3 separate regions of the Homo sapiens genome follow, and all the other regions are linked to region 3. Evidence: fine-mapped QTL for protein levels in blood plasma. A gene starts in region 3. Each other region holds a variant in brackets. All regions are shown on one strand. Distances are from middle to middle.

The links. PIP is the posterior inclusion probability: the model's chance that the variant is causal. Protein levels are from antibody-based Olink assays in UK Biobank. Linkage for the fine-mapping came from a reference panel and not from the study's own genotypes, which makes the PIPs less certain.
Region 1: its variant is fine-mapped to the plasma level of the PROK1 protein (UK Biobank, PIP above 0.99).
Region 2: its variant is fine-mapped to the plasma level of the PROK1 protein (UK Biobank, PIP above 0.99).

What each region holds. Positions count from the first base shown.
Region 1 is chr1:110,461,005-110,471,847 of GRCh38, reverse strand. No RefSeq gene overlaps it. Among named protein-coding and RNA genes, the nearest start is that of PROK1, 15 kb to the right of the region's middle. The variant T/C (reference allele first, on the strand shown) is at 5,439.
Region 2 is chr1:110,427,005-110,437,372 of GRCh38, reverse strand. No RefSeq gene overlaps it. Among named protein-coding and RNA genes, the nearest start is that of PROK1, 19 kb to the left of the region's middle. RefSeq lists a silencer at 3,280-3,469. The variant C/T (reference allele first, on the strand shown) is at 4,349.
Region 3 is chr1:110,445,878-110,455,129 of GRCh38, reverse strand. PROK1 (prokineticin 1) reads right to left here and starts at 3,981. Exons shown (of 3, transcript NM_032414.3): 1 at 3,842-3,981; 2 at 1,044-1,169. The coding sequence starts at 3,913.

The sequences.
Region 1 (10,843 bases), 16 kb before region 3:
CAAATGTGGTGAGGTGTCAACATTTCTGATATTTGGGTTAAGGTATGTAAGAACTCTTTCTGCAAGTTTGAAATTATGTCTAAATAAAAAGATTTTAAAGATTGAGATAATCCAAAGGCCTCTCCAAAACCATATTTATAAATTTGACACATGCCACCCCGCATGTCCAGAGGAAGAAGGTGGAAACTAGACAGGGAGAGAGCCGGTTACTCACAGCCTAGGGCCCTGCCCCGGGAAACAGGCAAATGGATCCAAATTCACTGGGGGCTGCAGGGAAGTGGGGTTAGCAGACAGGTCCTAAATCCCATTTCAGAGTATTTTTCAGGTAGGGAGGTAAAAAGAAGAGGAAAGCAGAGTGGGAGAGAGGAGGATGGGGTGAGAAGTTTCTCTGGTAGGAAACAGGTCCCTTCCAGCTCTGTCCCCACCACCACACAATACCTAGGCACCAAGACTGGACAGGGCAGTCCTAAAATGGGATGACGAAGATGGACATACAGAACACGAGCCCTCTGCAGGACAATGAGGCATTAGCACCAGGTCACACATCTTGAGATCGTGATTGATTTGCTTTGTAAATACAGTTTGTGCTGGGCACTGTGGCTCATACCTGTAATCCTACCACTTCCAGAGGCAGAGGCAGGTGGATCACTTGAGCCCAGGAGTTCAAGACCAGCCTGGGCAACATGGTGAGACCCTGTCTCCAGAAAAAAATACAAAAATTAGCCAGGGGTGGTGGTGCATGCCTGTAATCCCAGCTACTCAGGAGGCTGAGGCTGAGGGAGGATTGCTTGAGCCAGGGAAGTAGAGGCTGCAGTGAGCCAAGATAGCACCACTGCGCTCCAGCCTGGGCAACAGAGCAAGACCCTGTCTCGAAAGAAAGAAAGAAAGTTGTAAGGAATCGCTTAGTAGTTGGGAAGGAAAACTGGTTCAAAATTTAATGTTTAAGATCTTCATAATATTAGATTTGGTGAGGTCTCCTTGATATGACACCAAAAGCACAAGAAACAAAGGGAAAAATAGATAAATGGGACTACATCAAAACTTAAAACCTTTGTGCATGAAATGACACACATCAACGAAGTGAAAAGGCAACCCATGGAATGGGGGAAAATGTTTGCAAATCATATATCTGATAGGGGCTAATATCCAGAATATGTAAAGAACTTCTACAAAAAACAAATAACTTGATTTATTCTTTTTCCCTTTTTTTTTTTTTTTTTTTGAGACAGAGTCTTGCTCTATCGCCCAGGCTGGAGTGCAATGACGTGATCTCAACTCACTGCAACCTCCACCTCCCAGGTTCAAGTGATTCTCCTGCCTCAGCTTCCCGAGTAGCTGGGATTACAGGCACCCGCCACCACACTCGGCTCATTTTTGTATTTTTAGTAGACGGGGTTTCACCATCTTGGCCAGGCTGGTCTTGAACTCATGACCTCATGATCCACCCACCTCGGCCTCCCAAAGTGCTGGGATTACAGGCATGAGCCACCACGCCCAGCCATAACTTGATTTTTAAATGGGCCAATGACTTGAATAGAAGTGATTTCTTCAAAGAAGAGATACAAATGGCCAAGAAACGTATTAAAATATGCTCAACATCACTAATTATTAGGGAAATACAAATCAAGACTACAATGAGATATCACATCACACACATTAGGATGGCTGCTATCAAAAGAAGGGAATAGGGGAAGAAGGAAGGGAAGGGAGGAGGGAAGGAAGGAAAAGGAGGGAGGGAAGGAAGAAGGGAAGGAAGGAAGGGAGAGAAAACGAGTGTTAGCAAATACTTAGAGAAGCTGGAAACCTTGTATATTGCTGGTATGCATGTGAAATCGTGCAGCCACTATGGAAAACAGTATGGCAATTCCTCAAAAAATTAAAAGTAGAACACTGTATGATTCAATAATTCCACTTGTGGGATTCTTCAGTTCACTCAGATGAATTGAAAGCTGGGTTCCAAAAAGATATTTGTATACCCATGTTTGTAGCAGCATTATGCACAATAGCCAAAAGGTAGGATCAAGTGTCCATCCACAGAGGAATGGATAAACAAAATGTGGCATATGTGTGTATGTCTGTGTGTGTGTGTGTGTGTGTGTGTGTATATATATATATGAATATTATTCAGTCTTAAAAAGAAAGGACATTCTAACACGTGCTACAAAATTGATGAATCTTGAAGATGCTATGTTAAGTGAGATAAGCCAGTCACAAAAAGACAAATACTGTATGATTCCGCTTATGTGAAGCACACAGAGGAGTCAAATTCAGAGACAGAAAGTAGAATGGTGGTTTCCAGGAGCTGGGACCAGGGAGAGAATGGGGATTTATTGTTTAATGGGTACAGAGTTTCAGTTTGGGAAGATGAAAAATTTCTGGAAATGGATGGTGGTGATGTTTGCCCAAGAACATGAATTTACTCAATGCTGCTGAACCATACCCTTAAAAATGATTAAAATGGTAACTTCTATGTCACATATACAACACAGTAAAAAAATAGGTTTACTTGTAAATAAAAATCAGTATACTCTTATGAACCAAATATCATAAACTATAATCTAATGAATGGAATATGCACCTTTTGAAAACTCAGAATATAAAGAGGGACACCTTCAGGTTTTATGTTCTGTCTTTGAACATCTGCAAAACTCACTCCTCCCTGGCCTGGTCACTGTGAAAAGTAGAGGGACAGGGTCTCAATCATGGGGTTTTCAGGAGTAGAGGCGACCTTGGCAATGTCTCTTACACAGCCCTGGGTCCCTGAGTGCCCACTGTGTGCTCAGCGCCCCTGCTCTGCCCTTGTGACAGTCATCCCTCCCAGCCTCGGCGTCCTCATCTGGAAACATCTTCTACCTTGTAGGTTTTTTGTGATGATCAGTGAGGCCATGCAAGGTGCCTGGCAACAGCAGGCACTCGATGAATGCAAGCTCTTATTATTCTCCTCTCATCTAGTCATCACCAAGAGCATGCAGGGTGGTTGCTATTATCTATATTTTACAAATGAGAAAAATGAAGCTTAAAGAACTTAAGTCGTTACTCAGCTCCAAGATGAGAAGACAGTGTTGCCAGGATTTCAATCCAGGACCAGTTCAACTCCAGAATCCATGATCTTTCTACCCCAGCCTCTCAGGCCTCATTTAACAGATAAGAAACATGAGGCTCAGTGACATTGGCAAGGGTGAAAGCCCAGATGACCACAGGGGCCAGGCAGGTAATGGAGAAGAATATGTTAGCTGATGTAAAAAAAAAAAAAAAATCGCCTACCAGAGATTCTACCAAATTATATCTATTTTTACTAAACTAAGGAGTAGGCATGTAACATTTTATGGGCCTACAAAATACTAGAGATTGTGCTTCAAATTCTAAATTTAAAAATAAATGTTGAAAAATAATTTTAGGAGAAACCAGATCAAAAAAGAAAAAAATGCAATTAATTTAATTATCTTCCAAATTGCTTCATTTCAGATGTCTCACTATGTTGCCCAGGCTGGTCTCGAACTCCTGGCCTCAAGCAATCCTCCCACCTCAGCCTCCCAAAGTTCTGGGATAACAAGCATGAGCCACCAGGCCCAGTGTCCTTCCAATTTTTTTTTTTTTTTTTTTTTTGAGACAGAGTCTCACTCTGTCACCAGGCTGGAGTGCAGCGGCGCAATCTCGGCTCACTGCAACCTCGGCCTGCCAGGTTCAAGCGATTCTCCTGCCTCAGCCTCCTGAGTAGCTGGGATTACGGCGCACACCATCAGGCCTGGCTAATTTTTGTATTTTTAATAGAGACGGGGTTTCACCATGTTGGCCAGGATGGTCTCGATCTCCTGACCTCGTGATCCGCCTGCCTCGGCCTCCCAAACTGCTGGGATTGCAGGTGCGAGCCAACGCACCTGGCCCCAATTTATTTTTTAAGCATAATGCAGGCCAACACCTGCAGACCAAATTGTCTGCAGGTCAGATGCTAACCCCAGCCACCAGATGGCCACCCTGAGGAAGGTATAGTGGAGGCCAAGATCAATGGCGGGTTCAGGAACATTTGAAAAGAAAGATAATATCACAAGTTAGTGCCACTGTGGGAACCCACACTAGGGATGCCAGGATTTGCCATTTTCCAAGAGATACAGGAAATGTGGATGTGGGGAGAAATATACCAGCTTTGAAATAAGAGCAACCATTTGTTTTTGCACTGTGCAGACAAAATAGCAGAGGTCTATAGGGCAAGCCTCTCCTCCCACCCAGTGACAGTCTACAGGATGAGCCACTTCACATATTGGCAAAGCCCAGACTAAAGAAAAATCTCCAGACTCCCAGGCCGTGATGGAACCAACCAGTGTCTTCTCCAGCCTGGACCAGTCCAGAATGGGAGCAGGAGGTCCCGAGGGGAAAGGATGGAAGGGGGAAGGAGACTGGCGGATGCCCAACCCCGACAGTCCCAGCTGAAGGAGACAGGTGTACAGACACTGGGGCATCAAACTCTGACTCTGACTTCAGGGTTCAATTATTTTCTTCTGTCAGATTTTTGCCCAAAGCTATACCCAAAGATTTTCAGTAATCCCACGTCAGTGGAAGGACTGCACAACATCTAGCCACATTAATTAAAGAGGATTTTTTTCCTCTGAGACGAACGTGTGTTAAAAATATCAAATATTAATCACTGGCAACATTAATTTATAATAACGCTTGTCTCCCTCTCAGCTTCTAAGTTGACATCTGGCATGACTGCTTTGAAACTAACACCCGCTCCATTGCAGGAATTATAAATAGCCTGAGTTAAAATCTTCACCTTGAACTGAACAGACTGACTCCACGGGGTGGTTTACGAATGAAGAGGGCTGCAGCATGCAGTAAAATCCGGGGTGGGTCTACTTGGGGTAACAGTCAAAGAATTTTTTTAAGGCAGCAATCCTGAAGCAGGGAAGGGTCAGGGAGAGGGGTATGAGCACAGAGGGCCCTGCCCTGCTTCCTCCTCATGGGGCAGGGTGCCCAGGTGCAGGGCTGCAGGAGGCCAGCCTCACTCCCACTTGGCCCATTTCATGAGCCATCAGCGGAGGGGGTGGGCACAGGCTGTTCTATTCCACCCTGATTAAGTGCACAATCCAGTTTCTATACTTGAGTTTTGAGGATTGGTTGGTGCAGACACTGTCTTTTATTGAAGAGAGGGCAGAGCCCACTTTATATAAAGAGAAGAAAAAATTCATCTATCAGCCTACAAAGCACGTTCACTCCATAAGCCTATCTAGTAGTGATATTCACAGTTACTGTGGCTCCTCTCTGTGCCAGCCTGGGGCTTGCTCCTCGTATTTAGTCCTCACAACAACATCACAAGATAAGCTCTAATGGGAACCTATTTTACCAATGAGGAAATTGAGTTAGAGGAGCAAATTCCCCCAGGTCCTGTAGCTAGGCAGTTGGCGGGTGGAGCAGGATTCAAACCAAGAAGAGTGAGTGAA[T/C]GGGGCCTTTTTGCTTCACTCCTTTCCAACATTTCTCAAGCTGCTAAAACTCTAGCTTGCCAGACTTCCTCTCCAGAAATCCAGATCCAGTGGCTCTGGGATGCGGCACAGGACCCTGGGTACTTCACAAGCACCCCAGGTGAGTTTAACCCTAGGGGAGTTTGGGGGAGCACTGCCGAGGGTGCCCTCGTGACAGCCTGTGGGCAGCCAGGGGTTACTGTTCCTGTTTACCAGACGTGGAAACAGACCCTGACTCCTCAGGGTGCTGAGATGAGACTTTTGGTCCCAGGACCGCCAAGAGGACCTCTGACCACCAGCCTGAAGGTCAGAGAGAGGACAGAGCAGGAAGACAGGGCGCCTTGTAGAGTGGGAAATAGTGGGGACAGAGTCTGAGAAATAGGGTGGGAGACGTTGGGGGCAGTATATGGTCCCACTTCTGATTGCATCCAGCTCCTCAAGGGCTCAGGGGACCTCTGGGGCAACCCAGAAAAGCCCCTTGTGGCCTACATGCTTTGCAGTTAGGCCACCTCCAGGGGACACTGGGGCCCCAACTTGTCCAACTAAGACTGCAACAGGGAGATAAGGCAAGAACCCTCTCTCTCATCTTTCCCTGGCTGGGGCCAAATTCCCGTGGGTGCTTAGCTCCCCTGAGACCCCTCACAGGCTCTTTCCTCTGACCCTACCTCCCTGGGCCTGCACCAGAGCCTCTTCTCAGGCCCCTTCTTGAAGGCTAATGAGACCAGGCATGGCCAGCCTGACACTGCAGGCTCTCAAATGTCTCATTGTCCTCCCCTCACGCTGACAGTAAGCTGCAGGCTGCCTCTGCCCATGGGGCTACTGCTACTAAGATACCACCCCCAGCAGCTCCTGCAGTGGGGCAGCTCCCAGGAGAGGGTCCTGGGCCCCGCCTTCTGTTGCCCTGACTCTCTGACACCCCCTGGAGACCCTGAGCATTGCATCTGGCAGCCCAGGTCCTTGTCTCATCCCTTCCCAGCTGAGCCCCAGATGGGTCCAGGGAGTGTGTATGTAGAACACATGTTGCCTCCTGGTCTGGGCCTCAGAGCAGCCAGCTCAGCCTCCTCACCTGCAAGGCTTTCCAGAGTCCAGGTGGGGGCCCAGCTGTTTGCCTTAAAGTGCACGGAAATGACTGCCTTTCAAGGGACCTCCTCTCTCTCCTGCGCAACTGCTCCTCTCTGTATTCTTTTTCCCCCTTTGCACTTTGATGACTCAGGTTTTCACAGGCACAATAGTTCCCCCTTTGAAACCTAATTCTGGATGGGCACAGACCCAGGTGCGCACACACACCCTTCTTCCTCCCTCTCCCGGGCTTGCTAGTCCTTGCTTTAGCATGAAGACTACCCTCTATCTTAGCTGGAACTTCTCCTAATGGAAACTAGCCTCTCTGCCACTTGGAAAGAAAAGTAGAATTTTCATTATTTGTTTAACTGATTTCCTTCAAAGGTTGGGGTGATGGGTTAGGGTAGTGTTTCTCTGGGAGTGGGAGGTACAAGGAGCACCTGCATCAGAGTCCAAGCTGTAGAGGGGCTTGTTGAAGGCCCCACAGAAGCAGAGTCTTCCTTTGGTGCTTGGCAGTAACGTCTTCCTTTGGTGCTTGGGAACTGGTGGTCTAGGGGGTGAGCAACATTCCCTAGCACTGCCTCCTTCTAGAAGGGAGTCGCAGCAACAGTGAGGCCTGTCTCAGGGAACACACATGGTTTGGGAGGTTTGATTTGGACACAATCTGAGAGGAGCCAGGACAGACTTCAAAGCCCACTCTCCTTATGCTTTTTCTACCAAAAAAAAAAAAAGAATAGCACAGTATTAAGATCATAGCCCATATTGAGCAAACATTCCATTTTACTGTGAAACAGTGACTCATATGTTTAAGCAAGGTATTAAGAAGTACTTAGATAAGATTTGTGTATCTGTGTTCCCAAATGGAGCTGTTATTGAGCTCTGCCTACATAAACCTGTGCTTCTAAACTTCAAGATAATAACAGAACATGATCTGAACAAACTGATTTCTTCCTACCATGTTCAGCTTCTGGGGAATTGAAGCACATCCGAGAAAAGATTGTTCGTTCCTTCCTGGACATCTTATTGGTTTACCTCACTGAAGAGATCCCTCCAGGTAATGCTAGTGTGGTGTGCTGGTTACAACACGTAGGTGCTATTTTTATTATTGCCATTGTACAGATGGGGAAACTGAGGTACTGAGAGGTTTAGTAACTTTGGGTCCAAAGTCTCTAGTAAGCATCCAAACTAGGGTTCGAACTCAGGCAGTCTGTGCAGTGAACCACTGTGCTAACCCCCCGTCAGGAAACATAAGGGAGCTTTGCCGCTAATTTGATGAGAAATGCCAATCGAGCAAAATGTAAAATAACAAGAACATGTCAAGCTGCCATTTGACATATTTGTTTACTTAATCTTTGGGGTTTAGCTTTGAGACAGAATTTCACAGGCTCCTCCATGACTCGTCTCCGTCAGAAATGTGCCCACGTCTTCTTACTCACACCAGTGTTTCTCTCTGTTTAGATCCAGTTAATCCTCCTCATTAATCTTCAGCTCCCAAATAAAGGCCCCTCTGTCCTCACTAGACCCAGAATATTTTCCTGCCCTGTACCAGGCCAGCCCCCGCAGGAGCTCCGAATCCTTTTGAGAACCACACTCGTGTTTTTCTCCCAAGGTACACAGAAACAAATATGTCTGTGACTGACGCGCAGCAGAGTCTATCGAGTAGGCAGGGGGCTGAGACAGGAAAGGATCTTTTGGACAAAAGGACCATAAATCATATCCTTCCTGTGACCTGGACCAAGTGGTCTTCCCAAGACCCAAGCACTGCCCCTCAGGTGAGCAGAGAACTGGGACAGGACACAGCAGAGTGGCAGGGACCTAGGGTGTGGCTGCAGACCATGGCTGTGTGCAGGCCCCAGCAGAGCCCTTTGTCATAAATATGGGATGGAAAACCTCAGCAGGGAAGCTGACTCTTTCGTTCACCTAAAGTTGTTCACCTCAGTGATTCTGTGGCTTTGGGCTTCTGAGTCTAGCCATGGCCCCAACCAGGGTTGGAGCAAGAGGTGGCAACCCATCTTTCAACCTTATTCCTTGTCAGGGTCAGCTGTCCAGGGTGTAGTTCTAAAGGGGGCACAAAACATCCCTGCAGTCAATAGAAGACTCAGAGCCAGTTAAGGCCTGTGCCAGATAACTCAGCCACTACATAGGGATCTCTCTGTTCCCACCAGGGTGGGCAGTGCCCTCCAGTGGAAAACAAAAATTCCTTGCACTCATCTTAAGATGCAGTCCCAGGAAACTGAAACCCCAGACTGCAGAGTGCACAGTATAGTGCTTTTGTTCTGCTCATAGGCAGTTTCTTTAATCATCTAAATTGAAAACAGTTTAGTATGCCATTGGTGTAAAAGATGTTTGGGGTAGAAAACCACATATAACAAATGCCTTATTTGGTACATTAGCAAAGAAATACACAGTTTGGGTTAATGTCAAATCGTTCTCTTCAGCCTACAAAACAAATATTAAATGAACATTTTTTAAAATATCCATTTGAAGGAATATCAAGTCACAGTCCAGCCCAGAACACCCACCCTCCTCACTCCTGATGTGCCCCAGGGCTTGAGGATCTCCTGGGTCCCTGGAAGCACCAAAACTCAGAAACTGTGAGCCCCGGCCCCTTCCTGACCTCATCTTTTCGATTCTACAAACCGAAGTTGTAGAGCTATTTTTTTTTCTTTTTTACTTTTTGGATTTTAGTATTTTTAAAACAGCTTTATGGTGATATAATTTACATACCAGACCATTCACCCATTTAAAATATACATTTCAAATAATTTTTAGGATACTCACAGAGTTGTGCCACCATGCCTACTAACTAATTTTGAACATTCTTATGGCTCCAAAAAGAACATTAACAGTCACCGCCTATTTTCCTACCTGCAGCCCACCCCAGCCCTGGGCAACAGCTAATCTACTTTCTGTCTCTACAGAGTTACCTATTCAGGACATTTCCCATAAATAGAATTATACAAGATGTGGCCTTCTGTGACTGGCTCTTTCACCCAGCATGATGTTTTCAAGGTTCCTCCATGTTATGGTGTATATCAATACTTCATTCTTTTTCATGGCTGCATAATACTCCATTGTGTGGATATAGTGTGTTTTATTCATTCACTTGTCATTCGATGGAGAAAACCTGTTTGTTTAACAATGGCTCTTATTGTTTTCCTTTCCAGCTCCCAATCAGAACAGGTGTCCCCAAAGATACCCAGACAGAGAATGTGCCCCCAGGCCACCTTGTGCTTCCTTCCCCCACTGGTAGAATCTGATTTTTTGACAACCCAGGCGAATCCTCAAGGTTGACTCTTGGGCTAGACTCACAGGTCAAGGCCGACTACTGGGCCAGGCGCAGTGGCTCACACCTGTAATCCCAGTGCTTTGGGAGGCCAAGGCAGGAGGAATGCTTGAGACCTGGAGTTTGAGACCAGCCTGGGCAGTATATGGGTCACATTTTCAAGTAGCAATTTCTGGAACTCAGTGATTGTCACTGTCAAGGGTATGAAGAAGTAGGAATGCTGCTGTGGTCTGAATGTCCCCCTGAATTTATGTGTTGAAATTTAACCACCCATGCAATAATATTAAGAGGTGGAGCCTTGCGGGTGATTAGGTCAGAATAGGATCTGCCCTTGTGAATGGGATTAGTGCCCTAATAAAAGGGCTCCAGGGAACTAGCCAGCCCCTTTTGCCCTTCTACCTTCTGCCATATGAGGATAAAAAGAAAGCCTTGAGCAGACACTGAATCTGCTGGTGCCTTGATCTTGGACTTCTCAGCCTCCAGAATTATGAGAAATACATTTCTGTTCTTCATAAATTACTCGGTCACAGGTATTTTGTTATAGCAGCAGAAACGGAGTAAGACAAACATCAAGTGTTGCCCTCCATAGCTCGAGGGTCTTGGCCCCACCTCAGCCCCTGCCCAAGCACAGCCACCCTAGACAAAACACACACTCTAAGTAAAATCCAGCTGTCATTCGTCCTGCAAATTCAACTCTGAAGCAGGTCCCCAACCTCGGAGCCTCTGCTGAGCTGACCTTTCCCTTTGGCTTTGGGAGGCTTCCTGCTCCTCCTTGGGTCTCACCTCTGGCCACTGCCTCCTGGGGCCTCAGAAGGGGATCACTGGACAGGAGGAACAGCAGTCAGCATGCACTCACCTGTGCCTGCTCAGTCATCAGCCAGTTGGCATTCTATGGACTACACTGTCCCATGTTCACTGTTAAATATTCAGGTGGAGCTGGATTTAGCAGCAGATTTCCACTTAATCTCCTTTGAGTGTTTCAGGCCCTCAGGAGAGCTCCCAGGATAACTGCTCTGGCGGCTGCCCTCCTCTCAGTCTGTGT
Region 2 (10,368 bases), 18 kb after region 3:
TTCACATAGTTGGGGTCCACGTGAGTTCACTTTCTGAAAGGACTTGTGCTTTGACATCTTGGAAGACCAGTGCCTGAGCTCATCTTTGATTTCAGCAGCAGCTGAGATAGAAAATTCCACCTGAGCACAGATTCAGCCAGGTTTTTGGCAATTGCCCTTCTTCCATCCAACTCTGAAGGCAGTTTCAGAAAGAAGAGCCCAGGCTCCCAGCTGCTCCTGCTGAGGTGGAGCCCGTTGTCTGAAGCTGCCTTACAGGGCCTCCTGTCCAAGGACATAAGGTCTCATCAAAATGAAGCATGGGGTTAGTTAGTATGCGCACTTGGCTGGATATTTCCAATAAATTTCTGGACATTCCTATGTGAAATAAATTTCTTCTTGTAAGAGGATCCCTCAGGCACTAGAAACCTCTCTGGTTTATTAGCTCGCTGACCCTCCTATAAATGTCAAAGCCATCCCCTAGATGGGAGCCCAGCAATGTCTTTGAAGTGGCAGAGGCCATAAACATTCCACGACTGCCTTACTAATGGCAGAGGCTCTCACAGACAATCAAGGCCCTTCAGCCTCCTTGCACGCTAGTGACTCCCACACAGGCAGGAAGATGCCAGAGTTGGCGGGAAAGGAGGGCAATTGCTAAAAGCCAGAGGCCCAGAAACGTGGAAAGCTGTGGTCGGCGGGACTCCCTTCCCTGAAGGAGTCAGAGAAGATGTCTTCCCCTTTGTGCTGGCAAGATCAGAGTTCTCAGGAGAGGAGAACCCAGGAGTCAATGCTCCCAGCTAGTCTCCATCTGGTCTAGCTTCTCTCCAGGCATAGTTGGAGCGTGGGCCAAAGAAAACTCAGTCAGGGGACGGCAGGCAGAAAGCCACCAAAGGGCCAAAGCCACTAGTCCTGCCCCTGAGTTTTCTGTGTGTGGTCTCCTCTGGCCTTGATTTTCCACCCACAGAATGGGGTGAACGCCCCTCTGAAAATCACAGAATGTTAGAAGCAACAAAGGCTTAGATCTTCCAGCACAGTCTCTTCAAGTCTGAGCGCGGCTGGTCCAGCTTCCTCCTGGCCAGATCCCTGCTCATCCTATACTGTTGCTCACTCAGTGCTCCCAGGTCACCCCCCAAAATTGTTTCATGGCCCTTTGTTAATTCAAGGCATCTTCCCCAGCACCTGACCTTTTAGGTACAGAGATCACATGTAACCCAAAGGGCAGCACTATTACAAATAGGCCTTCTTAAGTAGCTATTTCCACGGCAAAAAATGAGTGGTGCTCTAGTGCAATTTTTCTAACTATTTGACTATGACCCACCATAAGAAATAAACTAGAGCCCAGCACCCACAAGCACGAATTTATGTTTATATAAAACTAAAATCAAGGGTTTATGAAATAATACTTATCCCTATCACAGGCAATGCACTCTGATATATTTTCTATTCTAGTCTAATCTGTTTCATCTTTTAGTACTGGTTGCAACTCGCTAAACCAGGGATCAGCAAATATTTTCTGCAAAAGGCCTGAGAGTAAATATTTTAGGCTTTGATGACTATATGATCTCTGTCCCAAGTAATTAAATTAACTCTGCCATTGTAGTGGGAAAGCTGCCATTGACAATAGGAAACGAGTGGGGGTAGCGGTGTTCCAATGAAACTTTATTCATACAAATAAATAAAGGCTGAATTTGCCCCATAAGCTGTGATCTAAACTGATTTCATGACCCACTAATGGATCTCAATCCACAGTTTGAAAAACATTGCTGTAGGGGACCACTCCCCAAGTCTTTTCCTCTAACAGAAACCAAGTTTTGCTCAGTGTGTACCTCTCCTACAGGTAATGCAATTCCCCAGGGTACTTAGAAGCTGTGCTTCAGGGGAAGCTGACCATATTCCCAGCACTAGCACTGCATCTTGAACAGTCAACCCACCACATTGTTCACCTGTAACTGCGGATGATCCAGGGGTGTACAGGTGAACTACGCTGGCCTGATTAGTCAGAAGGGAAGGCCATAAAGTCTATGCTTGGGAGAGTGGTTTCTTTCTTTCTACAGCTGGGTGAATCAAGCAATCATGGAGCCCTTCTCCTTCCACCATCGGTAGTTGGAGAGTCGGGACCATCAGAGTAACCAGTCTTAGGAAAAAAGCCAATGCTGAGGATGACAGAGCAGAAAGATGAAAGAACCTGGATCCTTGATTTGACCACATGTTAATTGAATTTAAGCCAGGCTCTCTATCTCTTGTACCCAGAAGCATTCTGATACAAACACAGTACATCAAGAGGCAGGCTCCTGCCCGAAGACAGCACATTGGCTCTATCCCAAACAAATGCAAGCTTCTGGGGAAAGATCAGACAAGTTCCCATTCCAAGCAGCCAGGGACCCAAGCCCTTCACCAGCTGACTGGAGTCCCTCTCCCCAGTGGTGCCAGCCCCACAGAAGCCAGCAGCCTTTAAGGTGTTCTAAGCTCTGGATCCAGTGCTCTTTCCTTCCTCACATAGGCTGGTAAAAGTAGGAGTAAGTGAAATCAGGACCAACTCACTCTATTTTTTTTTCTTTCTTTTTTTTAGATGGAGTCTTGCTCTGTTGCCCAGGCTGGAGTGCAGTGGCACCTCCACCTCTCGGGTTCAAGCGATTCTCAAACCTCAGCCTCCTGAGTAGCTGGGATTACAGGTGCATGCCCCCACACCCAGCTAATTTTTGTATTTTTAGGAAAGACGGGTTTTCACCACGTTGGCCAGGCTCGTCTCGAACTCCTGACCTCAAGTGATCTGCCTGCCTCGACCTCCCGAAGTGCTGGAATTACAATTGTGAGCCACTGTGACCAGCCAACTCACTCTAATTTCTTAATTTAAAAAGCCTCCCATTAGCTGCCTGCTGAAGGAAGGCAGATTCCATGGAAGTTTACATTTTTCAGATGGGTGGTTGTCAGAATAGAAACTTTTCATCCAAATGGGAGATATTGGGCATCCAAGTTGACCCCCGACACCCACCCTGTGGCCTGGGGGGAAACAGACAGGACCACCGCTTTATTGATAAGGCTGCCAGGAGCGAAAAGAAAGGAAAATACTTAATGCCACTGAATCGTACACTCAAAAATGGTTAAAATAGTAAATTCTAAGTTATTCGCATTTCACCACAATTTTAAAAGACTGAAAAGAAGGAAACAGAGTCACATGAGTAGCTCTGAGGGCAGCAGGGCAGGGAGATCACATGTTGAAATCCTACAGAAACTCCTTAGAAAGACAGGCATGAAACACTGTCCTGAGCGTGAGTCTGTACTGCCAGGAAGGCCTGGGTGCAGGTTAGCTCAGGGGTGTGAGTCTGATGGGCTGGTCACACGGGGAAAGGCCTGGGGCTGAGTCAGTGGCAGCAACAAAGCCAGAACCTCCCAGCAGGTGGCTTTCTCTCACTCTCCAGCCTTTCGGCCTGCCCCTGCCCCCACTGTGGGCTGAGAGTGCAGGAGGAGCTTCTGTTGGGCAATCACTCTCAGCAGGCACTGTGACAGGTCCCTAAAAGGGCCAGGAGGATGGAGAGAACTAAGGAAAATGACAAGTTCACCAAGGACTTGGACTAGTTGGTGCCAAGTGCACTTTGTAGGCCCCTGGCCAGCGCCAGGAGGAGACACAAGGGGACAAAGATGCCCAGGTCCCCAGCATCCAAAGCAGAGACTCTGGGTTTCACTCAGAGGCCAATGCTTGTGCAGATAGTAAGAAGGCAGGCAGGCAGGCATTATATCCACTCCTTCCACCCAGCCCAGCTCAGCCTGGCAAATGCTCAGAGAGGGCAACATGGCCCTCTGAGGGGGTGACTCTCCAGAAGAGAGAAGCAAGGCTGAGCTCAGGAAGTAGCTTCTCTCAGGAAGCTTCTTCCTCCATTAGGGTGGAGAGGGAGGAGATGGGGTAGATAACAGTTGTCCTTTTTATCAACTCTATCCCACTAGGCTAGGAGGAGAAGCCCTATAATCCCATGTACCCCCACATGACTGGATATCTGCTCCTTCCTTCTGCTTCTACAGGTTGAACTGTAGGGGATTCCCCTAATAGTGAAATTCCACCGCCATGTAACAAAACCTTGCACGGCAGCAGGGCCTGTGGCAAAACAGAATTTTGCCAGGTATGTGGGAAATAAATGAATGTTTTAAGTGGTCAAGATCTCTCAGTGCTAGTCAAGTAGAGTCATAGAATTAAGGTACTCTACTTAATTTTTTTTTTTTCCTGATCCTGGGAAGGTTCCATGTGAGATTTCCAAAGCAAGTAGAAGTTTGGAGATATGGCCTGATGAGACCTGCAGGTAGACAAGACTACTGGAGAAGCAAGATCCATCTTCCTGCACCCCATGAATAGCACGTCCTTAGCACTTGGACACAATCA[C/T]GCACACACACACCTGCCTATAACATTTTTCTCTCCGGGCCAGGCGCGGTGGCTCACGCCTGTAATCCCAGCACTTGGGGAGGCTGAAGCGGGTGAATCACTTGAGGTTAGGAATTCGAGACCAGCCTGACCAACATGATGAAACCCTGTCTCTACTAAAAATATAAAAATTAGCCGGGTGTGTTGGTGCACGCCTGTAATCCCAGCTACTCAGGGGGAGACTGAGGCACAAGAATCACTTGAACCCGGGAGTCTGAGGTTGCAGTGAGCCGAGATCATGCCACTGCACTCCAGCCTGGGTGACAGAGCAAGACTCTATCTCAGGGAAAAAAAAAAAAAATATATATATATATATATATATATATATATTTCCTTCCTTCCTTTCCCCTTCCTTCCTTCCCTTCTTTCTCTTTCTTTCTTTCTTTCTCTCTTTCTTTCTTTCTTTCTTTCTCCCTTTCCCCTTCCCTTCCCTTCCCTTCCTGACCTAACAAGCTGAGCTTCCTGACAGCTAGTCCGATATTCAATCTTCGCTAATGGGATCTTCATCTCTAACCGGGAGCCTCAAAAATTTGTAACCCCCAGAAACATACTCTGGGTAGAGGAGGCAGGAGATTCGAAGGACTGAGAGATACACAGGAAAGAGATAAGGCGAGGAGCTCCCAGCCTGGTCGCCCATTTATAACAGTATTTATTGAGCACTTACTGTGTGCCAGGCACTGCCCATGCATTATCTCACATGATCCTCCCACCAACCCCAAAAAATAGGTATTCTTGAGGGGAGCAGGGTACAAGGCAATGGAAAGGACATAGGCTTTGAGATCTGCTCTTAGATTCAACTACTCCTTGCCATATATCATTTGGGGAAATTGATAGGCAAACAGATCATTTCAGTCCAGTAAATACAGGCTATCCCAGGATAGCTTTTACAGGTCCTGCAGTGATCAAAAGAAAAGGCTTTGTGGAGGAAGGATGCTTGAACTGCAGGGGGAGTGAAGTGCACTCTGCAGACATGCACAGAAGATGTTCCAGTCAGAATAAATTATGTTTATGGCAGCAGAAACACAATGCAGTCCACCTGGGGAGTGGCGGAGACAGAGACTGGCCTCTGGGAGGCAAGGCTAGAGTTTTGTCTACCATGCCAATGAATTTAGGTTTCATCTTGCTGGTGATGAAGGACCATCTAAAGGAATCGTGTGTTACATGAGGAGACCTTCAGCAAGGGAGAGGTGGATGAGTGAGGCCATGCCTGGAGATGCTGGGCCAGCTAGCAGACAGTTTCAACAGGCAGAGTCACATGAGGAGAGCCCAAAGGCAGCAGGAAGGGAGTGGGGCCGAAGGAGTGAACTTCAGAGGCTTTCAGGTCCTAGAGTAGGATGAGAGAGAAAGAAGAATAGGAGACGGTTAAGGTTGGGGCCTGGAGAGCTGTACAGATATTGATGCTATTCGCCAATCCAGGACATGCAGAAGGAGCATGCATCAGCCCCGGGCCCGCAGGAAAGAGGGAGCCACTCAAACTAGGATAATGCACAGAGGGTGTTTTCACAAAGGTGTGAGCGTGGTGTCGGATAAAGGCAGGACTAATGCAGTAACCTAGAGCCAGTAGCAGTGGAGTGAAGGAGCTTCTCCCATCACCCAGCCAGAAGACCAGGAGGAGAACAGCTACCTGGACCAGAAGGAGAGGGTCTTGTAGAGAAGCTCCCTTGAGAGGATCCCCTTCTGCCAAGGGACAGCCAACCTAGGTGGTCTTGCTGGGAGCATGACAGAGGAGTTAATTCCCCGGTTTCATGTTCCTCCTTTCCTCCACTCCTCTGAGGGTTACTAGCCAAATCCACCGAAGGCAGCCACCAAGACATCCTCACAGATCAGCCTCCCAGGACACACAGCAGGGCAAAGAAGGTGGAGATGGATGGGAGGGGAGCAAGGAGCAGATTTGGAGGAGTGCAGCATGGTCCTAGGAGAGCGCCATCCCTGCTGCCCCTAGCTGTGTGGCCTTGGCCAGGTTACCTAACTTCTCTAATCCTCAGAGAGAGGTTGGGGCTGAATACTCAGGAGTCTTCAGTGGAAAGGTGGATGCCATGGGTGTGCTGCGATTTCCTGGAGAAGGTGTAGCTTAGAGGGGAACTGGGGCAGGCTGAAGAGTGAGAGTCAGGGTACGAGGCTGGGGAGGAGCCACCACACAGTCAGCAGTAGCTTCCTCCTCTGGGATCCTCTAGCATTTTCTCTTTAACTTCTCACAGAAGACTTTACAGATTTTATTGCCACTGCTTCCGTGTGCCTCCCATCAGAGTGTGAGCACCTTTGTTCCTCAGTCCCTCAAGGCCGATGCATGGTCAGCCCTTGTTAGTTGAGTGAATGAACAAACAACACTGAAGAAGCTGCCCTTGAAAAACCGGGGCATCGGTTAAGGGCTTTGAGCAGAGGATAGAAGACAGTGGAGGAGGAGGCTCAGGAGGAAGTGGGATGTCAAGCTGTGGGGCAGCTGCAAGACCTTGCATGCATTTGGTGGAAATTTCCTAGGGGCTACCAGGGGGCAGGCTGTGCTTGGGACTAGAGGCTAGAGAGGTGGGGAAGGCTCAGTCTCTGTGCTCAAGAGACAGCCCTCTGGACAGAGCACGGCAGCTCCTCCATGACACAGCTGTCCACAAGCTTCGGAGCACAGCTCCTTGTTAGTGAGTGGTGGTGTTAGGCAGGTGGGGAGGTGGGGGAAGTTGAAAGGTATCCTGGGGATGAGCAAAGTCTGATTTGGGGGTGAAGGGGAACATGCAACAATGAACCCAGTTCAATGTTTAGGGCAAACGTTTAATGCAGGAAGCAGTGAGAGGTAAGACTGGAGCCATAAGCAGGCAGAAGCTCATGGAGACCCAAGTGCCCAGATGTGGACTTTTCCTTATAGGCAGTGGAGCTCCCTGAAGGGTTCTGAAGCAGAGAAGAGCATACATAGTCAGGTGTGCTTCTTACCTGGACTACTGCTGAGGGATATTTAGGATGCAGCATCCTCTGGATGGTTGCTATAATAATAACTATTGTGACAAAGCTTCTTCCTGTGGAGCTGTTGTGTTTGCAAATCGGACCAAGGTCCCAGGCATCCAGGCCATGGAGCTAAGTTCCTAGCCCAGGTCTCTGGTCAGGGCATAAGTCATTCAGTGTGCCAAACCTCTGAAAGGTAGCCCGGCCCCTTTATTTACCATACTACACACAGCCAGTTCACCTTCTCCTCCTGAGCACCTGGAAAAGCTAACAGATGTGCCACGGTTCAACACAGCTTTTCTGTGCTGCTATTACAAACCCACAAGATTGAGTGGGGATCATGGTCTGTGAGTTGCCATGAAGAAGCAAATAATCGGCTGGGCGCAGTGGCTCACACCTGTAATCCCAGCACTTTGGGAGGCCAAGATGGGCGGATCACCTGAGGTCGGGAGTTCGAGACCAGCCTGACCAACATGCAAAAACCCCGTCTCTACCAAAAATACAAAATTAGCTGGGCATGGTGGCACATGCCTGTAATCCCAGCTACTTGGGAGGCTGAGGCAGAAGAATCACTTGAACCCAGGAGGCGGAGGTTGCGGTGAGCTGAGATCATACCATTGCACTCCAGCCTGGGCAAGAAGAGCAAAACTTCATCTCAAAAAAAAAAAAGAAAAAAAAAAAAGAAGAAGAAGAAAAAGCAAATAGTCATTTGCCAGAACCTGAAGCCACAGAGCCACTGAGCTCCATAATCCCTTGCATAGGCTGAGTCGTGCAAACACTTGGGGGAAAAAATCAGGATGGTGTGAACATAGTGTTGAGGGAGTGTTAGAGCAGAGAGCAGCCTGCCCACATGGCCCATCAGGACACAAAGCCAGGATCTCGCAACGTGAATGGAATATTACCTCCACCCTGTGTTGATTGAATGAGGCAATCAGCAGAAGCTGCTATGAGAATACTGATGGCCAAAGCTAAATATTGGGTGATAAATCTGTGCTGGCTAATTTTTCACTACAATAAGTCAGCCACATGCTTCTGGGAAGCCCCTGGGAACCCCGGCCCAGTTCAGGGACTTCATTGCTCTATTCTTCTCATTAAAGAATAGGCCAGATGCAGTGGCTCATTCCTGTAATCCCAGCACTTTGGGAGGCCAAGGTGGGTGGCTCACCTGAAGTAAGGAGTTTGAGACCAGCCTGGACAACATGGTGAAACCCCACCTCTACTAAAAATACAAAACTTAGCCGGGCATGGTGGCACATGCCTGTAATCTCAGCTACTTGGGAGGCTGAGGCACTAGAATTGCTTGAACCCGGCTCTGCCTCTTGCCTGCCTCAGGGAGAAGGGCAACCCAGCCCCTGCTTCAAGGGACCCTGACAAGAGGTGAGAAGAGTCCCAGGGCTGGACTAGGAACAGGCAGGAAAGGAGGCTACCTGTGGCAATGTCAGGAGAAACATATTCAGTCTTAAATAAGAAAATGGGGCTGGATATGGTAGCTCATGCCTGTAAACCCAGCACTTTGGGAGGCTAAGGTGGATGGAATGCTTGAGGCCAGGAGTTTGAAACCAGCCTGGCTAACATGGCGCAACTCTTTCTCTACTAAAAATACAAAATTTAGCAGGCATGGTGGCACACACCTGTAATCCCAGCTACGTGGGAGGCTGAGGCACGAGAATCACTTGAGCCCGGGAGGCAGAGATTGCAGTGAGCTGGGATAGTGTCACTGCACTCCAGCCTGGGTGACAGAGTGAAGAAAGAAAGAAAATCATAGGATCAGAATAAGAATCCTTGGCTCTCTTCAACCTAACTTCCTCCATCTGCTTCCACTTCTCCCGCCACCTCCTGCCCTCATTCTTCATTTTATTTTTTTAATATATATTTTGTAGAGATGGGATCTTGCCATGTTGCCCAGGCTGGTCTCAAACTCCTGGCCTCAAGCAATCCTCCCATCTCAGCCTCCCAAAGTGCTGGGATTATAGGCATGAGCCACCATGCCCAGCTCTGCCCTCATTCTTATGAGGAAACAGGCAAATGAACCAACCTAAGGGCCTTCTAAGTATTCTATCTAATAAGAACTTGATATACAATTCCTGCTTGTGATTATAAACTAATTCAGGAATGTCAAAGGATTTCATTCCAGGTCAGTGCTGACTGATTCGTAATGGCTGCCTGGAGAAGTATGTTGAGACTGAGTCTGAAGCTGCTTCTAGGCTCAGTGGGGAGGGTGCCAATGTTGATTGGTGATGCCTGCCATGGGTGCAGGATAGGAAAATGCTGGCACACATGCCATGTATTTTCTAAATAGGGGACTCTACAATGAAATAATTCACCTACAGTGGAAAATATCAATGAGATAACCACAGGCCCAGGATAAAGGGAGTTTCAACTCCTTGTGGGAGGTCCTAGTTATGTTTCTGCCTCTGATCACATTGCACTTTGGCAATGCAATTATAAGCCTCCTGATTCAGGTCACCCTTTTGGAGTCATAGATCTTCTTTGAGAGTTATGGATTGTTGGTGTTGAGAATTGAGTTATAACCCATCAATGCTTTCCCCATTTCTAGAAGTCCATGGAATAAACTTTTTTTTTCAACATTTTGATAAGGAGTCCTGGGGCTGAGCCCTGAAAAGGCCTGCCTCCCAAGATGCCAGTCCCTTCTAAGGAAGTCACCCCGTCCTGGCCATCCTGGACAGAGGCCATGTGACCATGCACATGGGCTAAGATGACTCCTATAGGCTCGTAGGATTTCCCTAAAAAATGAAATATTCTTCATTTTTTCCTCAATGTTTGCCCTCTTAAAGTGGCTCTTTTCAGCTCTGAGCAAAATAAGACCTAGCACCTTCAGATTTCTAGGTCATGGTTCCCTTCACATCCGTGGAAGTTCACTTTGAAAATTGTCTCCCAGAGCCCAGTAACTGATTCCCTTCAGGAAGCAGGGACTGAGGTGGCTGCAAGGGCACAGCCATTCAAAAGGGGATGTGCCTCTTCCTCTACACAGTTCCTGCTCGTTCCAGATAACTGTGGTGGTGAAGGGCCACGCTGCCTCTGGGGCATCCTGC
Region 3 (9,252 bases):
ACCATTTGCATTTTAATGAAAAAGCTGTGGGAATTGGGAGCTTCACTGGTTAACTGGTAAAGTGTGGTAAAGTGGCTCCAGAGAGGGAGAGCAGCAGGGATGCTGTGGCTCCAGAGGACTCTGGACTGGGAGCTGGAGGTCAAGGAGTGGGAGCAAGGCAGGAGCTATGTACTTAGGCCACAAGAGAGAGTGACTTCTTAAAGTGGGCACCTCACTTGCCTCACTGTAGGCCTGACCAGGTGTGGAAGGCGATTTTGTGGGTCTACTTTTGTGTCCCTGAAGGGAAGTTCTTACAGAGCAAAGGGCATGTGAGATCCTTCCCAAATCTGAATTCATCAGATCCATAAGGGACATTAGAGGTAGTGAGTTTGCTCCACTCATCATATAAGTGTGGCCTGAGAGCAGGTGAGGTAGTTTGCCCAAGTCCACACAGCAAATTAGGGGCTGGGAATGCCCAGCTTGTTTAACAGCCTATAAGATCAGTGGCACCCCTCCACCTGAGGCTGCCCCCCAAAAACAAGGAGGCAGTGCCCAACATCAGTGAGGTATGACTAGAGGTGGCATCGGAAAACTGCAGTTCCAGTCCCAGCTCTGTCTCATTGGTTGTGTGCCTTGAGCAAGTCACATGACTTTGCTGTATGTCAGTTTCCTCAGCATTGCCCAGGGTTGCAGTGAGGATCAAATAAAGATCAGTGGTTCTCCAACCTGTGCTAGAAGTTTGTAGATGAATTATGTCAGGCCCTGTACAAATAAATGTACAAATGTGTCATCTGCAGGGCACTAAGTAAGGTGGATGCCTGTTGATGGCAGGGGCACAGCAACCCCATAGCCTTCTGCTTCCCCTTGGACATTCAGGGGCTGGATCAGGGCTGGATCAGCTATCAGAGGAGGGTGAAGTCCTCTGGAGCCACAGCCTCCCTAGACTGCCTCTCTGGAGCCAGCCTCTCTAGCCTTCCTAGCTAGAGCAAGGCCCCAGGACATCACCCTCTGCTCCCCGCATGGCCCACCCACATATGTGCACCTATGCAGTGTCTGCAGAGTACCTTGTGGCTGCCGGGGTGGCACTCCTCGCCTTCCCGCCCCAGCGGGGTGCACATCCGCAGCCCTCGAAGCCACAGGCTGATGGCACAGCAGGTGCCTGCCCCACACTGGACATCCCGCTCACAGGCCTGTAGGAGGGAGAGAGAAGGGAACAGTTCATTAGTGCACCCAAGAGAAAGCAGAAGGGAAGGGTAGATCCAAAAAGCCCTTATCAGGATGGAGCAAGAAGAGGCTGAGAGTATCACCCCCGGCCTTAGCCTAACAGAACACCCTGGGCCACACTTTATTGCCTTGCTCCCCTCGTGGGGAGGCTCAGGGCTCAGGGGGGCATTGGATCTGGATCTGAGGAAACTTCCAAGCTCCTGGAGGCCACTCAGAAGGAAGACAGTCCTCCTTTTCTGACAAGGCTGGAGGTTAGAAGGCATAGCTTTTCTAGGGCTAAGTAGATGCTCAGTGGATGCTGGTGGAATTGAATTAATTAGAATTCTCAGAGGTGGGAGGGACCCTGATGGCCCAAATTCCTTGGTGGTCAGTACTGAGCTGCCTTGGACCAGGAGTCTCCAGCCCTGACTCTGCACTGTGGTCAGTCCCTCCCCTCTGCATGGAGGCACCCCCATCCTGGCCCTCAAGTGGCCCAGCCTCAGCAGAGGGGCCAGCACCCCAGTGAACAGGTGCCTCTCCCAGGGTTTCTCTACTGACTTCCATGATTCCCAGAGAGGATCGCAGAACAGGAGCTGAGCGGCCCTGCCTGGTTTGGGGAAGGTACCATTTGTAAAGAAGGCCACATTAAATAAGCTCACATTTAACATGAGCCCACGTTAAATAAAAGCCAGAGCCGGGGAAGACAGAACTCTTAACTGCTCCAGACTCAGGTGGGGACCTGCTGAAGAAGCATCCACACTTGCCATTCTCAGAGATGCTATGTGGCTTTTCTGAGCTGAAATGCAAAGCTGGGTTTTGGATCACTCTTCTCCAATAAAAGCCTATGGGCACCTTCAGGCTGCTGTGTGGGACGTGGCAGGACCTGGAAGCCTCCTACTTGCTCAGACCCAAGAGGGAAAGAGTGGATGTCAGCTCCACAGATCATGCAGAGGAGTTACGGGTGGTGGGCACCCAGCTGTGCCTGTCTCCAGCCCAGCAAGGGCACGTCTCACACCCAGCCAGGCCACAAAAGCTTGGGGTTGGGGTAAAGGAAACCCCAGTCGACTCTTCTTCTCCCATAGAGGTGGGGCATCACTGTCCCACTCTTGGAAGAAGGATCATAAAGCCTTGGATGTGGGGACAGTTACAGTCCAGGGAGCAGGGGAGTGTAGAGGTGGTGGAGCCTGGGCTCCTGCTGAAAATCAGAAGTGGGACACCAGCAGGACATGGAGGATGTGGGGAGCCTGGGGGTTCCTGACTTCCCCTTACTGCCCTGTTCTCACCACTCACCTGTCTTTCCTGGGTTTCCCTCACCTAGGGAAAAGTGCTCTCTATTGTGCTTTTCACCGTGAAAATGTTTGCCTGCCGCTCTCAGATCTGCCTGCCCTGCTGTCACTCTGGGCCAGTGCTGGAGCTGGCACGGGTGGTGAGGCAAGCCTGGCATCCAGGCCAACCACGCTGCTCCTGCCCTCACCGCGCAGCAGCCGGGGCTTCTCTCCATTGTTCTTGCCCTCCCAGATTTTCAAGCTACCCCATAGAAGGGCAGCCTACAGTGTAAACACTTCATTAGGTATAATTCTGCCTTCACAATTATTTTTATTTTTGCTTTGGATCTCAAAAGCATTTGACTCGCCTTTAATATTTGTTCTTTTGAACTCAGTGTTTTTCCTTTAAAAGAGAAAAGAAAGAATTTGTCCTTTCTGTGAATGGTAAAATTAACCCAATTCCAGGAATTGTTTGGCATTTCTCTACATTTCCACTATCCATGTAAAAAGCTGGTGGAGGCTGAACTAAAAGTTAGTTTCCCTGCTTCCCCGACCTTTTTCTTCCAGTGGATTTTATATGGAAAGCTCTCAGGTACAGCATTGCTTTCTGCTTCAGTAAGAATGGTCCTGCTACCATAACACATCATGTGCCCCTATTTGAAGGTGGTTTGAGGTAAAAGCAAACTTCCGAGAGAAAACCATGATCTGAATATTTTGAACCAATTGTACAGTGCCCATATGCTGAACCTTTGCTTCTCTGCTTCGAGACTGGATATCTACTTGTTATCTGGATGCTTGCTTTGGGGTACACTCAGCTGAATGTTAGTGGCACCCATATTCCTCTCAGAACTAACTAGGCAGGCACAGAGTGAAAGAGTTTCAAAGATATCCTTTCTAAGCGGAGGTTAAGTTTATACAATAGAAGTTTATAAGCTTACCACCTTTAATTAAGCTTACTGCCTTTAATTAAGTCAACATGCTATGTAAATTAATATTAATATTAATATGTGAATCAGACCATAAATAAAAATTAAAATTCACACAAAAGATAAGTTAAGGTTTGCCAATCCACTTTATAAAGGAATTCCTTATTACTTAATAGGAATCTTCACTTTACCAAAGGACTGAACTTCAAAATGTTCAATGCTCTGCTAACACATTGAAAACAGGATTTGATTCATACACAGCTTCTCAAAAGCAGATCCCATTTAGTAGAGTGAGGTCTAACTAGTCTGAAAATCGCATGCAATCCCTTTAATGCATAATTCCCCATTCCCTTTGGTTCACACTGTGTTGAGCCAACAGAGCCTCCTGCATGGTTCCTGGGCTCACAACCCGTGCAGACCCTGACATCTTCCCAAAACCCAAGGCACAGAGAATGTTAGGCGACTTACCCCTGTGATCACAGCACAGTCAGACACAGTTACTAGGAGGAGCATGATTGAGACTCGCGTGGCACCTCTCATGGTCACTTGGGGTGAAGGCAAAACACTGCCTGCTTAGATGCCTCTCGCTTCCTCCCGCTCAGCCTTGTGCCTGGCAAGCTGGGGAGGCCAGGCTCTCCTGCATCCCCCGCCTCCTCCCAGATGTTTACACTCAGGATCCAGGGCTGCCTGTGGATGCCTCATCTCTGCTCTTCCCTTCTCCAACACCGATGTTACTCAGATGATCTCAGAAGCGAAGATGAGACCTGAATCTCTAACAACATCAAATCAACATCAAAACCAATAAAAATGGATACTTGGGGGGCTTTGACGGTTGCTCTAACTCTCCCAAGAACGCAGTGATTCAGACAGTTATGTATATTTCACTCAATGTTCTTTTCTGCCTCTGGGTATCCTTCTATCCTACTTGGGGCAGAGGAAAGCCTCTGGTAATGAATTAAGGGATTTGCAACATCACCATTTATGCTTCCCTGCACCAAACTATGCAACATACAAGATTATTGGTTCCCTCTCACTCACACCAAGACTTATCTAGGCATTTACCATGGGCTCAACACAGAGGTAGCTGAGAAGACAGAAGAGGGTGAGGTGGTATCCTTATTTCTCTAAAAGGTTAAAATTATAGTGAGGAGCCATAAGACAGTGAGGAAAAAAAGACCAGACTTGTGGGGCTGATGTTCCTAAGTGACACACACATAAGGATTTGCTCTCTCATGGGCTCAGGATGAACACCAGCAAGTGTCCCTTGGTACAATGACCCAAGGGCAGAAAGCCAGCAAACATACAGGGCACACACTCTCTCAGTACCCTGCAGAGCCGAGCTGGTATGGGCTGTGGCTGAAAGGTACCAGAGCCACACCACTGGCCTTCCAGTTTTAGGGGTGAGCATGAGAGTGGCCTTATCCGTGAGTGTATAAACACGGTGGTCTCAGATGCCAGTCTGGTGGGAAGTTGACTTTCGGGATGGCCCCTCCGCCTGTGAGGGAAGCCCCTGACCCCAGCCCTCTCTGTGTCATACGACCCAGAGAGAGCTCCCAGTGCTTTGTCAGATGATCTGCCTTCTCTCCACAGTAATAAAAGCCAACATTTCCCAAGGTATGTGTTGCAATATGTTAATACACAAATAAACAAATAAAAGACTTCTACAGTCAAAAATTTGGGAAACACAAACCGGCTTGTTTTTTGCAGAACTTTTCAGGGCCTTTCATATGCTAATAAGTGTTTGAAACACCAAGTGGGAAATGCAGTTTGTAGTATTTCACAAGCAGATTCATCCACAAAACCTTTCTTATCAAATGTCACAGGGGTCTAGGGTTTCCACATTGAAACGCTGATAGGCATTTATGAGTGCAGAGAGGAAGGTTAACTAGCACGGGAGCTGGGAGCTAAGCCCCCAGAGGCAGATGCTTTGATTCAGATCGATGGCTTCATGACCTTGAAAATATTGCTAATCTCTCCAAGCCTCAGTTTTCCTATCTATAACATGGGATAAGAATAGCATTTACATCATACGATTTTGCGAGTATTCATCTATTTATTTATTCATTGACTATATTTATTGAGAGCCTACTGTATAGAAGACACTGTTCTTGGCACTGGGAATATAGCAGTGAACAAAACAAAACCCTGTCCTCATGTAATTTTGACTATAGTCAAGGAGACGGGTAATAGACAAATAAACAGATTTGTAATAAAATGGCCAGTTGTGTTGAGCACTGTTAAAAAGGAAGGCCAGGCGCAGTGGCTCATGCTTGTAATCCCAGCACTTAGAAGGTAGAGGCAGGCGGATCACTTGAGGTCAGGAGTTCGAGACCAGCCTGGTCAACATGGTGAAACCCCATCTCTAGTAAAAATATAAAAATTAGCCAGCTGTGGTGGCTCACGCCTGTAATCCCAGCTACTCGGGAGGCTGAGGCAAGAGAATCACTTGAACCTGGGAGGCAGAGGTTGCAGTGAGCCGAGATCGCGCCACTGCACTCCAGCCTGGGCAACAAAACGAGACTCCATCTCAAAAAATAAAAAAAAGGTGGTGGGGAGAAAGGCAGGGAAAGCAACAGACCTTGACAAGTGGTGATATTTTAGATGTGGTAAGGGTCTGTCTGAGAAGGCACTTGTGCAGATGACTGATAAAGTGAAGGAGTGAGCTGGACAGAGCCTGGATGAAAAGTCAGTGCAACAACCCTGTGGCAGGGCTTTTTGGCCAGTTCCAGGAGAAGCAAAGAGTGAGGTGAGCCAGGGGACGGGATGGGAGGGGATGCAGTTGGAGCAGGAGCCAAAGACCAAATCCAGCCTGCCTTGTGGGACATGGCAGGAACCTGACTCCAAGTGTGATGGGAACCCTTGGAGAGTTTGGAGCAGGGGAGAGGCAGGATCTGGTATACACTTGGATTTTTTTTAGAGACAAGGTCTTGCTCTGTTAGCCAGGTTGAAGTGTGATTATAGCTCACTGCAGCCTGGAACTCCTGGGCTCAAGCGATGCTCCTGCCTCAGCCTCCAGAGTAGCTAGGACTGTAGACACACACCACCGCACCTGGCCTGATTCACACCTTGAAAGGATCCCTCTGACTGCAGATGGAGAGTTAAGTGAGGTGATGCATATGAAGTGCTTACCACAATGCCTGGCACACAGCAGCATTTGCTACCAATGGCCAGTTTTTTCTATAAACATATGAACTTGTATGCCTTAATATAAAATTCTCCTGGGAGGTGAGAATCAAAATAATGAGTCTGTAAGGCCCACCTGTACACTGTGACACTGGGCCGGGCTGGTGACAGAAGAATCAAGAGACCATCCGAGCCTTGGAGGACCTTCTGCTCTGGGAGAAAAGCTACCTAGGGAGGAGGCAGCACTTTGCTGGGGGCTTGGAACACCTTACAGAAGTGGTCCTGTGGGCTCTGCTTGCCCTGCACACACTACCCCACCTCACAAGTTTGCCTTCCAAGAGACAATGTCAGATCAGGTGATTCTCAGGCTAACACCCGTCCCATTCGCTCCCCTATTCTCACTCCCTCCCTCCCCACTGCCACAAACACACAAAACTAATCATCTCACAATTGCAGTGAAGAATGGTAGCAAGAAATGCTGTTGCAAAACAAAACCAATAGCATTGATTAAAAGCATTTTATTTCTCTTGAATGCTAGTGCTTGAGGAAAAGCCATTTTAATTAGAGGAGGACAAGGGACAGAGGGCAACTTGGTGGAAATCCCAGAAGAGACTCTGAGGAGCTCCGGGGATAAGCAGTACTGATTCTTTATTCAATAACTCAATTACACATTCATTCAGTTCCTTCCATGTGTCAGGACCAGGAACTCGCACTTCTAGGGTCTAATTTCCCTCTAGACCTTAGAGCTCTCCTGTTCCCTTGTCTAGGTGGATTTCAACAGTACTTGATTCTTTTTTGCCATGGTTAGGGTTACTTTTTGGCTGCCAGGTGCAGTGTGGAAAAGGACAGTGGAAAGGAGAGGAAAACCCTGAACTAAGCAAGCATGAACTGGAGGAGACAAAGGAGGGAAGCCGGAGGGGAGGTGAGACAAGAAGCAAGTGGTAAAAAATGGAGGGGAAACGGTGAAAGTGCTAAAAGTGGACTTGGTTCCGCTGAGGGAGGAGAGAGCTAGTGGAGAAGATGTGCCGGGCAAGCCTTTCCCAGAATCCTACACACCTGCGGAGAGAATGAGGGCAGGTGGGCAGCATGCCATTGAGTGTCTGTGTAGAAGGGCTACGTGCAGTTCACATCTCATAACGTCAGCCTGGCCCTTATTTCTCTGCTTTAGCTGATGTCAGTGTCACCATGGACCATTTATACAGATGTGTGTGTGTGCGCGTGTAGCAACAGCCAATCTCAAGGCCTACCTTGAGGGGCCCCTCAAGATGTAGGGCGACCTTCTCATGGAGTGAGACTATGGAGTGGAATATTCCCTGACCTGGCATAGTCCTCTGAGACTGTTTACCTTCAGGCATGGAGTAAGTCTCACCTAAGCATGGGGGAGAGGTTGAGAAGCCCCTTTCCACTCTACCTTAAGATCATGGTTATTGTTCTGCAAGCTAGAAAGGGAGCCCATGTCCAGGGGTCTCCTTGCTCCTGCCTGAGTGGGCGGATCTTGTGTTAATGTTTGAGCACATGTGTTCAAATATGCTCCCTTTGGCTGGGTGCAGTGGCTCACGCCTGTAATCTCAGCACTTTGGGAGGCAGAGGCAAGTGGATCACCTGAGGTCAGGAGTTCGAGACCAGCCTGGCCAACATGGTGAAACCCTATCTGTACTAAGAATACAAAAATTAGCCAGGCCTGATAGCATGTGCCTGTAATCCCAGCTACTCGGGAGGCTGAGGCAGGAGAATCACTTGAACCTGGAAGGCGGAGGTTGCAGTGAGCCCAGATCACATCTCTACCTGGGTGACAGAGTGAGACTCTGTCTCAAAGAAAAAAAAAATGCTCCCTTTATTACTGGTTTGTTGCTAATGATTAAACAAGAATTAACTCTGATCCGTTTCAAAAAGAGATGAAGAAAGGAATAATAGAATAAAGGAAACCCAAGCATCCAGGCTGGGGGTTGTTAACTTGGAGTCACAGCCCTGAGGAGCTCATGAGCAGAATTCAGAGAATCCATAAACTTGGTAGAGAGAAAAATTGCATCTTAATGTTCACTAACTTCTAACTGAATTTTTAACATTTTCTTTGAACCATAGGCCACAAACTACAAAAGTTTTAACAGTACCGTGATTTTGTTGCCAGGAGAAATTACAGATGTTTTTATGTCATATTACTATTGCTTCAAATAGCTCCAAATATCATTCCTGCTCATCACTACCTTGAAATCACTGTAGTTACTAGGCTCCTTGCTAGATTGTTACTTGATCCATTAATAAAGAAGTGCATGTATTACCATGTCACAAATTTGTTTTTAATAAATATCTTGATAACTTTATTTTAATAAACTTGATATTTTTTATAATCTTACATATTGTATTTTATACATTTGAAGTCATTATTCTGAGCCATAGGCTTCAAAGGGGCCTACAGCACAATAGCCAAGAACTCCGGGGGTAAACTCTGGAGACTCGGAGCAAAGGAAAGATGCAGCTTAGTACAGTGCAGGGTCATAAATTCAGGCCAGCTGAAAGCCTGAATTTAAACTGGACAAATCTAAGAAGAATTGGAAGAGGAGGAGGAAGAGAAGAACAAGGAGAAAAAAGAAGAAGAAAACAAAATAGAAAGAGAAGAGTACCATCCTGGCTAACATGGTGAAACCCCGTCTCTACTAAAAATACAAAAAAATTAGCCGGGCGTGGTGGCGGGCACCTGTAGTTCCAGCTACTCGGGAGGCTGAGGCAGGAGAATGGTGTGAATCCGGGAGGTGGAG